2 separate regions of the Homo sapiens genome follow, and region 2 is linked to region 1. Evidence: fine-mapped expression QTL. Tissue or cell type: subcutaneous fat. Region 1 holds a variant in brackets; the other region holds the start of a gene. All regions are shown on one strand. Distances are between the middles of the regions.

Evidence for each region. PIP is the estimated chance that this variant, and not a neighbour inherited with it, causes the effect.
Region 2: it holds the start of DNAAF1, and the variant in region 1 is fine-mapped to the expression of DNAAF1 in subcutaneous fat (GTEx, PIP above 0.99).

Annotation. Positions count from the first base shown.
Region 1 is chr16:84,182,014-84,189,930 of GRCh38, reverse strand. It overlaps TAF1C (TATA-box binding protein associated factor, RNA polymerase I subunit C), which reads left to right and starts at 2,874. Exons shown (of 15, transcript NM_001243156.2): 1 at 2,874-3,030; 2 at 4,871-5,080; 3 at 6,153-6,234; 4 at 6,424-6,521; 5 at 6,598-6,687; 6 at 6,782-6,855; 7 at 7,491-7,729; 8 at 7,873-7,917. The coding sequence starts at 4,943. RefSeq lists a silencer at 2,679-2,888 and an enhancer at 2,534-3,034. The variant C/G (reference allele first, on the strand shown) is at 4,225.
Region 2 is chr16:84,141,402-84,147,698 of GRCh38, reverse strand. It overlaps DNAAF1 (dynein axonemal assembly factor 1), which reads right to left and starts at 2,391. Exons shown (of 12, transcript NM_178452.6): 1 at 2,135-2,391. The coding sequence starts at 2,258. It overlaps HSDL1 (hydroxysteroid dehydrogenase like 1), which reads left to right and starts at 2,522. Exons shown (of 6, transcript NM_031463.5): 1 at 2,522-2,619. RefSeq lists silencers at 2,338-2,787, 2,948-2,997, 3,048-3,097.

The DNA.
Region 1 (7,917 bases):
AGGGACAGCACAGCAGATGTCCAGAAATGGACTGAGGGCTGCACATATCCACAGAGAGACTTCCACAAAGTCATCAAACCCAGTAACGCCCCAAACGCTCACCAACAGGAGGTTGCGTGAACAAATCAATGGTATATTCATACAATGGAACACGACTCACTAATTTAAAAAGGAAACAACAGCTGCGTACACAACACAGGTGAATCTATTAGGCACATGGCGTGGAAGAAGCCAGACACATCCTCTCCATGATTCCACTTATGTAAAGTTCTTGAACTGGCAAAACTAATCTGTGGTGATAAGAGTCCAAATAGTGGTTCCTTCTTGAAGGAAGTATTGACTGGGAAGTGGCACCAGGGAATTTTCTTTTTAGAAAAAAATTTTGTAGAGATGGGGGTTTTGCTCTGTTGACCAGTCTGGTCTTGAACTCCTGGACTCAAGCAACCCTCCCACCTCGGCCTCCCAAAGTGCTGGAATTATAGGCATGAGCCACTGTGCCTGGCTGGAACTTTCTTGAGTGATAGAAATGTTCTCTGTCTTGATCTGGGTGGTGTTCATGTGGGTTTCTATGTATGAATAAAAATTCAATGAGCTGTACATTTAAGACTCGTGTGCTTTACTGCATGTTGAGTATATGTCAGTTACAAAAGCAAATTGATAATGGCTTATTCAGAGAAAGGAGGAAAGGAAGAAATGGAACTGGCCTCGCAGTGCCAAAGCTGGATAGGCGTTTTACAAGGGTAATGTAGAATATTAGTGTGGTAGGCAAAATAATGGTTCCCCCAAAGATGTCTACAGCCTAATCCCCAGAACCTATGAGTATATTATTTGGCAAGGGGGCATTAAGGTTGCAGGTGGAAGTAAGGTTGCTAATCAGCTGCCTTTAAAATAGGGCTCTCACCTGTAACCCCAGCACTTTGGGAGGCCCAGGTGGGAAGGTAGCTTGAGCCCAGGAGTTAGAGACCAACTTGGGCAACATGATGAAATCCCATCTCTACAAAAACTACAAAAATTAGGCCGGGCGTGGTGGCTCATGCCTGTAATCCCAGCACTTTGGGAGGCCAAGGCGGGTGGATCACATGGTCAGGAGTTCAAGACCAGCCTGGCCAATATGGTGAAACCCCGTCCCTACTACAAATACAAAAATTAGCTGGGTGTGGTGGCAGGCACCTGTAGTCTCAGCTACTCGGGAGGCTGAGGCAGGAAAATCGTTTGAACCTGGAAGGTGGAGGTTGTAGTGAGCCAAGATCACGCCACTGCACTCCAGCCTGGGTGACAGAGTGAAACTCTGTCTCAAAATAAAAAAAAAAAAAGAAAATTAGCCAGGCATGGTGGTGCTTGCATGTAATCCCAGCTACTCGAGAGACTGAGGTGGGAGAATCATCTCAGCCTGGGAAGTTGAGGCTGCAATGAGCCATGATGGTACCACTGCACCCTAGCCTGGGCGACAGAGTGAGACCCTGTCTCAAAAAAATAAATAAAACAAATAAAATAGGGAGATTATCCTGGATTACCTGGGCGGGCCTACTATAATCACATGGGTCCTTACATGGGAAAGAGGGAGACAGAAGAGTAAAAACCAGAGAGATGGCCTCATGAGAAGAATCCGACTGGCATTGCTGGCTTTGAAGATGGAAAGGGGTCATGAGCCAAGGAATGCAGGCAGCTTCCAGAAGCCAGAAAAGACAAGATAGTGGACTCTTCCTTAGAGCCTCTCAAAAGGAACACAGCCCTGCTGGCACTTTTAGTCCAGGTAAAAACTTCCAGATAAAAACAATATAGGCCAGGCGTGGTGGCTCATCCTGTAATCCCAGCAATTTGGGAGGCCTAGGCAGGCGGATCACTTGAGGTCAGGAGTTCAAGACTCAGCCTGACCAACATGGTGAAACCCCGTCTCTACTAAAAATACAAAAATTAGCCGGGCATGGTGGCGCAGGCCTGTAATCCCAGCTACTCGGGAGGCTGAGGCAGAAGAATTGCTTGAACCCAAGAGGCGGAGGTTGCAGTGTGCCAAGATCGTGCCACTGCACTCTAGCCTCCATCTCAAAAAAATAAATAAAGACATAGATGACAGCTGAGAATTTGGAAATTGATTCTTTAAAGCAACGGTTCTCAAAGTATGGCCCCTGGACCAGCATCATCTGGGAACTTGCTAGAAATGCAGACTCTTGGGCCACATCCCAGATCTACTGAATCAGCAACTCGGGGGGCAGAGGTAGGGTGGAGCCTAGCAAACTTGTAACAAGCCCCCCAGGTGGTTCTAAGGCTCACTGAAGTTTGAGAAGTACTATGTTAGGATAACGGTAAGGTTCATGACTGGACAGTGGTTCTTAAAGCATGGCCCCCAGATAAGCAGTTTCAGCATCACCTGGGAACTTAGGCAAATCATCAGGTCCCACCCCAGACTCACCGAATTGGAGACTGTGTTTTAACTAGCCCCCCAGGTGCTACTGCTGACGCACGCTAGCTAGAGTTTGAAGACCACTGCCTAAAGCTCTCCCTGCCTGACCACCCCTGGAAAAGCTTCACTCTTAGTAGGTATTTGTACCCTTATTTGTAAAGCCCGCTTCTTGGGATTTAAGGACAATCAGTAGGATACCTACTGACCAATACAGGTCTGGCTTATAGTAGGTGTTCTGTGGGAGTTCGTTAAATGATTAATTTAATACAACTCTGAGGAAATTGGTGAAGTAGATGTGGGATTCGAACCTAAGTCCACCCGGCCTCCACTATTGGGACTCAAGGGAGCTTTATTTCCGCTGCCCACGCGCCGCCTGCACGCCCGTTCCCTCTCCTCCCGGGAGGGGGCGCGCCAGGACCCTAAGAGGCCTGGCTGGGAGGCGGGACTTCCTGCCTCCGCAGGAGGCACTTCCGGTCCAAACCGGAAGACCGTGGGTAGCTGCGGCGGGGCTGACCCGTCCCGAGTGCCAAAGCTGGGGTTCTACTTGAGATTTCCCTCGTGGTGCCAGGGTCCGGCGAGCATCACGCCGAGGCCCATTTTCCAGACGACCACGACGAGGCCGGGGTCACGTAAGTGCACGCATGCGCCCCCTCCGCGCGGACTGCGCGTGTTCGAGGAGCGGACCCGCAGATGTAGGAGGGGAGGGACGCCCCCAATCCCCAGTCCCCGCGGCAGGCTCACGTTTCGCAGTCCCCGGCCTGTCGTTATTGCGGATCCGACTGAGTTCTGTAGCCTTGGAGGTCTAAAGGGTCCTGGAGAGCCCGCAGCGAGGGCGGGAAGCCGGCCGGGGAAGTCGAGGCTGCCTTGTCTGAGGGCTTTTGTGGGGTCGTGCTCTCCACCAGCGCCCTCCGCCTGTCTAGGATCGTTTCAGGCTATGCGGTTCCAAGAGAAAATATTTTTGTTTCTATTTTATTTTTGAGATAGAACCTTGCTCTGTCACCCAGGCTGGAGTGCTGTGGCATGATCTTGGCTCACTGCAACCTCTGCCTCCCAGATTCAAGCGATTTTCGTGCCCAGCCTCCTCGGTAGTTGCGATTACAGGTGTACACCACCACGCCCGGCTAATTTTTGTATTTTTAGTATTGACAGGGTTTCACTGTATTGGCCGGACTGGTCTCAAACTTCTGGCCTCAGGTGATCCGCCCGCCTTGGCCTCCCAAAGTGCTGGGATTGCAGGCGGGAGCCACCGCACCCGGCCAAAGGGAAAAGATTTTTGTATAGCGAGACTCTAATGCTAGCGTTTGCATTTCGGTGCATGCGAGAGCACTGGTTCGGAGCTCTGCCTCTGAATCGGATGGGAATCAAGTCTTGGCTGTGGCAGCTAAGAGCTGTTGGACTAAAGTTCTTGCTGAGCCTTCGTTTCCTGAACTCTGTTAACAGGGACGGCGATAGAAGAGTGCAGCATTTAGCATGTGCCTGGCAGATAGATGCTGGCGCTTGGTCAGCGAGCGCTGCTGTTATTTTTGCCCCTGTTATTTTTGTTAATTAAAAAGGAGGGATGCTATGGCTGCTCATACTTCTAGAGGACTGTATTTACCAAAGCCTTGTGATGTAATTTTTTTTTTTCTTGAGATGGAGTTTCGCTCTTGTTGCCCAGGCTACAGTGCAATGGCGCGATCTCAGCTCACCGCAACCTCCGCCTCCCGGCTTCAAGGAATTCTCCTGCCTCAGCCTCCCGAGTAGCTGGGATTACAGGCATGCGTCACCACGCCCGGCTAATTTTGTATTTTTAGTAGAGACCGGGTTTCTCCACATTGGTCAGG[C/G]CAGTCTCGAACTCCCGACCTCAGGTGATCCGCCTGCCTCGGCCTCCCAAAGTACTAGGATTACCGGCGTGAGCCACCGCGCCCGGCCCCTTGTGATAGAAATTTATTTTTTTCAACCCCTAGTGCATTTTCTGGGAGGCACTGTGCTTGACAGTAGGAAGACGATGCTCAGATGCAGTCCCTGGCTGTGGAGTAACTTGAGCGTCTTGGGGGTGTAGTCTGTAAATGTATGATGACGGTACTTACGAGCCGGGAGAGAGGCTGCCCCTTGCCGTCTTTCTGACTCCATCTCCACCGCTCTCCACCTCGCTCACTCTGGCTGCCTCATTTTCTCACACACTTCACTGCTCTAGGATTTTCACAGTTGTTGACCGTTCGGCCTGGAACCCTCTTCCCAGTTGCGTACATGGTTCTCTCCTTCACTAGGTTCAGGCTGTGCTCAAACGCCACCTTCTCAACGAGGCTTTTCCTGGCTGGCTTTGCTGAAACCACGCCCTCAGCCCACTACCAGATCCCCTTCTCCTGGACGGGTGGTTGGCTTTAATACAGTTCTCACTACTGCTTGGCCTTGGGCTACATATTTGTTTTTTGTTATCTGCTTCCTCAAAGAACATATGCTTCCCGTAGTGCACTTTTCACTCCTCAGGAACTCTGGCGCCCCTTACCAGCTTCCAGTCTCTCGAGGTGGCCAGTGTGGTGCTTGGTCCTTGTTTCCAGGATGGACTTCCCCAGCTCCCTCCGCCCTGCATTGTTTCTGACCGGCCCCCTTGGTCTGAGCGACGTCCCTGACCTCTCTTTCATGTGCAGCTGGCGAGACGCACTGACTCTGCCAGAGGCCCAGCCCCAGAACTCAGAGGTGAGGATGCAGGCAGGGGGCCCTGGCAGCTCCAGGGACATCCCTTCCCTGGGTCCCCCGTCTCACATTCACATCAGTTGACAAGGCCACAGAGTGGTGGCATTCACACGAGTCTGCTGAGACACAGGCTCTGCCACCTCCTCTGGGGTACATGGGCTACCCTGCCATCCCTAGACGGATGCCCCCACTATGCCGGGTCCCTTATGAGACCGTGAGAATGCTGCCTGAATCAGTCGGTTGACCCCTCCCTTCCTGGAACGGAGAGCTGAGTTGAGCGAGAATAAACAAGTGAACTTTATCCAATGGATAAGGTGTTTACAAAATGTGATCAGAGCTTGGAATGAAAGCAGAAGGATGCTGAAACAGCATAGTAGGGTTGGGAGAGGGGAGGATAGACCTGCAGGGTTTCTGCTGCCTCTGGAGGGACACTGGCCCTTTGCTTGGAATCCTCAGCCGCCTAGTTCCCCTTGGAAACACCCTGTCTGGGAATGAAGCCTGGCAGAGGCAAGTGGGTGAGCAAATAAAAAGAGAGACAGTGGAGCAGAGGCTTGGGGAACGGGGGTCAGGGATGGCATCCTTACGAGGGAGGGTCTGGCGTCAAATTGGGGCTCCTCTGGGAGTCTGGTTTCCTAGCTCTTTTGTCCCCTGAATGTCTGGGCCGAAACATCCCAGGCCAGCCCAGCAAAGGGAGGTGGAGCCGCCTGCCGGGCTCCCAGAGTGACTGCAAGGTCTCCTGAATGGAAGTGAGGTTACGTGAGATGTGGACCAGCCACTGGTGGCATGAGGGGCTTCCTTCTTTGAGAGCCAGCACAGGTGGAGGTCGGAAACAGGAGCTCTGGGGTCAGGCTGCCTGGGTTCACATCCCAGCTCTTCTCTTTACCGGCTCTGTCTTCTGGGGCAAATGGCAGTGTGCCTCAGTTTCTTCAGCAGTAAAATGACAATGCCAGTCATCCCAGCTTCGCAGGATTGTTGTGAGGATTGGATGAGTTGATAAGAGATGAATGCCTGTGCACAGCCTGGCCCAGGGAGGGCATTCATCATGATACTGTCCTTGCGATTGTCCTCCCTTCAGAATGGGGCACTGCATGTGACCAAGGACCTGCTGTGGGAGCCGGCAACCCCTGGGCCTCTCCCCATGCTGCCTCCCCTCATCGGTAAGGGTCTCATTCCCCCGGGCTCACTCCACACTGCTCCACCTATTCTTCCCACTGCTCCCGCTCCTGAGACCTTCCTCTCCCTGCTAAGCCTGTGCCTGCTCAGGACCCTTGGATACCTCCAGTCGCCCAGGGCATCTGGCCGCACTCCTGTGCCCTCCCCAGCCCTTTCCGTAACCTCCTTCTCAGATCCCTGGGACCCTGGCCTGACTGCCCGGGACCTGCTTTTCCGCGGAGGGTGCCGGTATCGGAAGCGGCCCCGAGTCGTGCTGGATGTGACTGAGCAGGTGAGTGGGCCCACGGGGGACAGTGCTGCGTAGCCTGGAGACTGTGCTTAGTGACCTGGCCTCCTCTTCTCCCCAGATCAGCCGGTTCCTCTTGGATCATGGAGACGTAGCCTTTGCGCCCCTGGGGAAGCTGATGCTGGAGAATTTCAAGCTGGAGGGAGCGGGGGTGAGTGGCCCGTGACTCCAGGGGTGGGGACTCCCTGCTGTCCTTCAGGGGTGAACTCGAGGGTGTGTGAGCCTGACAAGGCCTTTCCATGCAGAGCCGCACTAAGAAGAAGACAGTGGTCAGTGTGAAGAAGCTGCTCCAGGACCTCGGTGGACACCAGCCCTGGGGGCAAGTGGCTGATGAGAAAGGAGGAGATGGATAGGCATAGCTGGTGGTGGGGATGTAGGAGGTGCTAGGACGCACGTACAGCTTTCCGTCATACCCACTTCCCCCCTGCTCCATGCAGTCTGAGCTGTACTTTCTTATACCAGACTTCCAACTCCAAATCATCTCAGGGGAAAGCAGATTTACATTTGTGGAGTTCAGGCACAGCTGCATCCAGGTGTTCAAATAATGTTCATAGAGCTGTGTCTCTCTTTCCTGTCTCGTCCACTTGCCTCTCCCTGCACAGTTCCCTAGACAGGCTGTCTCTAGGTAGCAGCAAGATGGCTTATGATCTAAGGAAAGAGCCAGTGTCCTTCCTGCGGCACCAGAAGTCCCAGAAAGGACTTTGGTTGGCTTGGCTTGGGTCTCACACCCATCTGTGAACCAGTCACTGTGGCAAGGGCAATGGAATATTGTTGGTGGCCAGGTCTGGGTCACATGATTGCTTCCGGGGCATGGGAACAGGATGGGGTGGTCTCCCAAAGGAAGAAATTCTAGGTAAATAAGAAATGTGTCCACTGCACTTGGCCTCCTTGGGATGGGACCTGTCCTCCCCTGAGTGCCACCGAGTGATCCTCCTGCTGTTCTCTGGTCCCCAGGTGTCCCTGGGCTTACCTCAGCAACCGACAGCGCCGCTTCTCTATCCTCGGGGGCCCCATCCTGGGCACGTCGGTGGCGAGCCACTTGGCAGAGCTGCTGCACGAGGAGCTGGTGCTGCGGTGGGAGCAGCTGCTTCTGGATGAGGCCTGCACTGGGGGCGCGCTGGCCTGGGTTCCTGGAAGGACACCCCAGTTCGGGCAGCTGGTCTACCCTGCTGGAGGCGCCCAGGACAGGCTGCGTATCCTTTCTTGCGAGACAGGAGATTCCAGCGGGCTCGCCTCTGGTAGAGGAGGTGCTCTTGGCATGGTCCAGAGAAGGGCAGGAATTTGGGGGGCTTGCAGTGATCATAGCTCGTGCACTGATCCTTAGTGAGAGGCCCAGATTTCCAAGAGGTCGTTCTGACCCCAGGTGACAATCCCCAATTCC
Region 2 (6,297 bases), 41 kb after region 1:
TTTCAATTCTTGCTGGCAAAACACGGGTATTTGTTTTAATGTTCTTTGTTCTTTTGTCTTTTAAAAAATTTCTGAAGCCAGGTGTAGTGGAGCATGCCTGTAGTCCCAGCTACTCAGGAGGCTGAGGCAGGAAGATCTAGCCTGGGTAACATAGTGAGATTCCATCTCTTAAAAAAAAAATCATAAAAAGGAAAATCACATGAAAAGAAACAAAAATAGTGAGAATATCTATGATAACAATAACATGAGCACATTCAAATGAATAATTTTTTTAAAGGTCATTCAAAATTGGCCAATTCAACCGCACTTAACTTTAAGAGCTGTTGTCTGCTGCTTTCTGTGTTTGTGTGGTCTATTGAACAAGACTAAAGGCTGTGCGTGTGGGGACTGGTTCTTAAACTCATCAATTTTGCATAGAATGCCCAGCCACAGGAAGCAACAGATAAATGTTTGTGGAAAAAATAAAGAATAAGCGCTCAATATATAAATATTAATATGTAATTAATAACAAGAGCTACCATTTAATAATGGCCCACTATATGCTGGGACATTTAATTATAATTCTCTCCTTATACTCCTGTATAATTATTCCAGCTTACAGATGAGGAGACTAAGGCTCCGAGAGGTTAAGCTCTGGGCCAACAGCCATAAAGCTGGCCAGCTGCTGAGCCTCAACTTGAACCCAGTGTCAATGGCTCCAAGACCAGTGTCTTTCCACTGAGTAATGCCAGTTCCCTATGGCTCCTCATACAAGGTTCATCTGGACAGTTGATGCTTAAGATATATTTGTTGCCTGGAACACAAATCAGCTGGTTTATTTGTTGCCTGCGTTCAGAAACTGGAACACAAATCAAGTGGTTTTTTAATGTAATCACTAAAAGGTTTCCTTTAGGGCACCAAGTCTAGTGGGAGCAGAAGCTGAAGCCAGGCTTCCTTCTTTCCTTTTTTTTTTTTGAGACGGAGTCTTGCTCCATTGCCCAGGCTGGGGTGCAGTGGTGTGATCTTGGCTCACTGCAGCCTCAGCCTCCCCCTTGGCTCACTGCAACCTCTGCCTCCGGGGTTCAGGGAATTCTCCTGCCTTAGCCTCCCAAGTAAGTGGAATTACAGGAGCACGTCACCACGCCCTGCTAATTTTTGTGTTTTTAGCAAAGACAGGGTTTCAATATGTTGGCCAGACTGGTCTCGAACTCCTGACTTCAGGTGACCCACCTGCCTCTGCCTCCCAAATTGCTGGGATTACAGGCGTGAGCCACCGTGCCTGGCCATGAAGGTTATCTTTCAAGTCCATTCTGGCAAACTTTGGTGAGGGGATCACACACTGACCCCAGAACCAAGTCTTCATTCGGACTCTCTACCCTAGGTCAGGCACTGGACTAGACTCCAAATTCAATCAAGATGTCTTGCCCTGACACAACATGCAGTCTGGAGGGAGAGAAAGCCTTTGATCTTACATAGTGATAGCAATAAAGGGACACATTTAAAGCATCAAAGTTGGGACCAGGGAGAATAGCGTGGTGGGTTAGGGCTGGGGCTCTGGAGACCCAGACTGTCTGGGCCTGAGTCTGGTGGGTTTTGTTTGCTTGTTTGTTTGTTTGTTTGTTTGAGACGGAGTCTCCCACTGTCGTCCGGGCTGGAATGCAATGGCGAGATCTTGGCTCACTGCAACCTCCGCCTCCCGGGTTCAAGCGATTCTCCTGCCTCAGCCTCCCAAGTAGCTGAGACTACAGGCGCCCGCCACCACGCCCAGCTCATTTTTTGTATTTTTAGTAGAGACAGGGTTTCACTATGTTGGCCAGGCTGGTCTCGAACTCCTGACTGACCTGATGATCCGCCCGCCTCGGCCTCCCAAAGTGCTGGAATTACAGGCGTTGAGCCACCGCACCCGGCCAAGTCTCTTCTGTCACTGACTAGCCGAGGGTTATCTGTTTGGTGCAAGTTTTGTAACCTCTTAAGTATGTTTCCTCCTCAGTACGAAATGGCGAGAGAAGCCCCTACTGCAGAGCGTTGCTTGCTACCATTATTATTATTGTTATTATTTGGCTGTGAAGATCGGGTATGTGGTGTGGGAAGGGGGCTGGAGCGCCTAGCCGTGTCTGCCCCTCGCCCACCGCCCTCCCTGGGGGGCAGTCGGCACCTTCCTTGCAGCCCCCTCGGCCTGCGCTCCCGTGGTCACCCGCAGACTCCTCCACGCCGGGCTCCTGCGCGCAATCCAGCTCTGCTGCACCACCTGTCGCAGGCTCCGAGGGCTCAGGGTGCATGTTTACTTCGGCGACACCGAACGCCCCGCAGCTTTGGGGGGCCCAGGTTCGCGGCGGACGTCGCTACGGCCCCAGCCCAGCCAGAGAGTACCCTCTTTCCTTCTTCGCCAGCCGCTGGCGCCCTAGTCTTTACAGCCCAACGCTTCCCCGGTCGCCCAGGCAACCGCTGCGCACGCGCACTCGGGACGGACCGGCGCGCTGGGGACGCCGGGGGGTGGGGGCGGGTCTGAGACGGCTCCGCCCCCGGCGCGTACGCGGGTCACGTGAGGGCGCGGCGCGGCAGCAGCTCCGGCGGCCGAGACGGGGGCGGCGGCCGCGCGGGTCTGGCGGGACCGGTTTGGAAGACTTTGCCGGCCTGCAGGTACCGCGCCCCCCGCGCCCTGGGCGCCCTCTCGCGGTCCTTTCGCCCCAGACCCCTCCTCGGTCCCCTCAGCGCCAGCCGGCTGCTTGGCGAGACCCCTCTGAGCTCTCACCACGCCCCCCAGGCCCCGGGCCCCCTCCGCTGCATCCGGCCCCGAAGCCCCTTGGCGCCCCTGACCCCAGGAAATCTTCGTCCCTCCGTCCCGTGAGACTCCTTCCTTCAGACCAAAAAGCCCCAGCCCCGCCCCTTCACATCTCAGAGCCCCCCTTCCCCCGGCTCCATCCTCACGCCCCCCGCCGCGGCGCTGCACCCCTGTTCTCTCTCTTCCCCCGGGCCTTGCCCCCCAAACCGCGAACCCCGTTGTCGCCGGCGCATGCCCTGCCCTCCCTGCAGCCTCTCACCCGGCTCCTCCCCCGAGCGGCCCCAGCAATCGCCTCCTTTGTCGGTGCTTCTTTATTCTCATTTCTGAACGATTTGGTTTGAGTTGTTGTTGCCGTGTTTTTCTAAAATGGAAATATGCAGCGGTCGTGGGTTCAGCCAGGATTTCCGAGTTTGCTCGTGTTGACTGGGCCTTGCCGGGTGCTGGAGGGGAAGGGCTGGGAAGAAGAACCAGGCAGGTCCCCGTTCTGAACGTGCCACCCAGACGCAGCCCCAGAAACCGGATCGCTGCAGCGCCCCTCGGCGATCCCAACATGATGTGTACAGGTGACTGCGAGGCAGTCGGGGGGTCTCACAGTGGGCTCCCTGGACAGGACTCTGCGCCTTGCTATACCTCCATCTGAATTGCAGGTAGCCCCTTTCTGAGTTGTGGGGTCTTGGGTGTGCGACTTTACATCTATAAGACTCAATTTCCCCATCTATAAACGGGAGAGTCTGACTGCGCTTTATAAGATTAATGAGAGAATAAAGTGAGACAATAGGAATAAAGCACTTAGCAGAGTCTTTTGCATAAAGTGAGCTCTCAATTTTACTCTGACCGCCACAGGAGAGAGAGAGAGAGAGAGAGGGAGGGAGGGAGAGGGAGAGGGAGGGGGAGGGGGAGGGTGTTGATTGATTGATTGATTCAGACAATCTCGCTCTGTCGCCCGGGCTGTAGTGCAATGGTGCCTGCGATCTCAGCTCCTGCTACCTCTGCCCGCCATCCCGCACCCCGGGCCCAAGTGATTCTCCTGCCTCAGCCTTCCGAGTAGCTGGGATTACAGGCACGTTCTACCACACCCAGCTAATTTTTTTTTTTTTTTTTTTAGTAGAGACGGGGTTTCGCTGTGTTGGTCAGGGTAGCCTTGAACTCCTGGCCTCAAGTGATCTGCCCGCCTTGGCCTCCCAAAGTTCTGGGGTTACAGACATGAGCCACTGTACCCGGCCAAGTTTGTGGTTTTAATCACTGCTGGAATATTCTAGGGCAACAGAGTTGAACATATTGGTGCTACTTTTTTTTAAAGTAGGTTTTCAAAAATCGAAATGACTTACGCATGACATAAAATTTATCATTTTAGCCATTTTACAGTGTATAACTCAGTAGTTCTTGCTATAGTCACAATGCTATGCAACCATCACCAGTAACTAATTCCAGAACATTTAATCACCTACAAAAGAAACCCCAACCCCATTAACAGTCATACCTCTTTTCTCCCCCTGTCCCTCAGCAGCCCTAAGTTATCTTCTGTCTCTATGGATTTGCTTATGCTGGACATTTCATACAAGTGGAAACATACAACATACGGCCTTTTGTATTTGGTTTCTGTCCTTTAGCATAATGTTTTCAAAGTTTATCCATGTTGTAGTATGTATCAGTACTTCATGCTTTTTTATGGCTGAATAATACTCCTTTGTGTGGATAACACCACATTTTGCTTATTCATTCATTTGTTGATGGACATTTTGTTTGTTTCTGCCTTCTGGCAGTTGTGAGTAGGCCACTGTGAACATGCAAGCAGGAGTTTTTATGTGAGCAAAAGTTTCTAATTATCTTGGGTATCTGCCTAGGAGTGGGGTACTCTGAATATTTTAATTCTTACTGCATAAATACAGACATGATGGTGAAGAGTGTTGGATCTTGGATGAGAATCCAGGTTTCTAATTCCATGTTGCTGCTCTTTAGGCTCAGCTTCATTGTGCGTTTAGTCCTATACCAAAAATTGGCAGTGAAGGTAAAGACATCCCAAAAAGTCTTGATACACCAATGCTAACTTTGTCATAGTGCTGACGCAGAGTATGAAAAGCTTAAGTTTTTTTCTCAAGAGTGAAATTTGAGCTTTGAACACAAAGCAGTATTTGATTCTGTTTATTAAATAAAGTTGTCTACAGCAGCATGTCAGGTGCTGAGGAGGAATATTAAAGATGTGTGAGATCCGGCCGGTCACATCCCAGTGCTTTGGGAGGCCAAAGTGGGCGGATCACAAGGTCAGGAGTTCAAGACCAGCCTGGCCAATATGGTGAAACCCCCGTCTCTACTAAAAAAGAAAAAAATACAAAAATTAGCCAGGCATGGTGGCACACGCCTGTAGTCCCAGTTACTTGGGAGGCTGAGGCAGAAGAATTGCTTGAACTTGGAAGGAGGAGGTTGCAGTGAGCTAAGATCGCGCCATTGCACTCCAGCCTGGGTGACAGAGTGAGACTCTGTCTCAAAAAAAAAAAAAAAAAAAAAAAGATGTGTGAGATCCCAGCCTCACACCATCACAAAACGCCAGGAGGATTAAAGACTTAAACTGAAAAAGCAAAAATGTAAAATTTCTAGAAAATAATTCGAAAAAATTTCTTCATGACCTGAGGCTAAGGAGGGATTTCTGAAATAAAACAAACCCTAAAGCAGAAAGATTGATATATTTGTCTCTTTCAAAATTAAGACATTCAGCCAGGTGCAGTGGCTCCCACCTGTAATCCCAGCACTTTGGGAGGCCAAGGCAGGTGAATGGTTTGAGCTTACGAGTTTGAGACCAGCCTGGGCAACATGGTGAAACCTCATCTCTACACACACAAAAAAAATTTAACTGGGCTTGGTGGTACATGCCTGTGTCCCAGCTACTTGAGATGCTGAGGTGGGAGGATGGCTTGAGCCCGGAAGGCGGAGGTTGCAGTGAGCTGTGATCATGCCACTGCACATCAGGCTGGGCAATAGAGCCAGACCTTGTCTCAATAATAATAACAACACATTTAGTTCATGAAAGACACTATAATGAGACACAAAACATACAGAGAGCTAGTATCTAGAATATTTAAAGAATTCTTACAATTCTGAGAGAAAAAAAAGGAAAGGACAAAAGATAGGAACGGGCATTTCATAGATTACAAAACACAGAAAGCACATACATATAAAAAGGACTGCAGCCTTACTAGTAACCAGGGAAATGTAAATTAAAACCATAATGAGATACCATTTCACAGCCACCCTGTTGGCAGAAGGTGAAGCTTTGGACGCTACCAGCCAGTGACATTGAGGAGTGGCACGAACCTGCTGCTGGCGGGAGTGTGAATGGGTTCTGCCGCTTTGCAAAAGCATTTGGCAGTGGAATGCATGTGGACCAGCAGTTAAACCATGGGCAAATCCCTTTGCGAACTCTTGCACAGGTGTGCAGGAGATGGGGACAAGCGCTCCCTGCAGCACTGTTCCTAACTGTAAATCAAAACCAGCAGAAACAGTGCACGTGCCTAGCACCAGCAGCAGGGGGACCTGTGAAT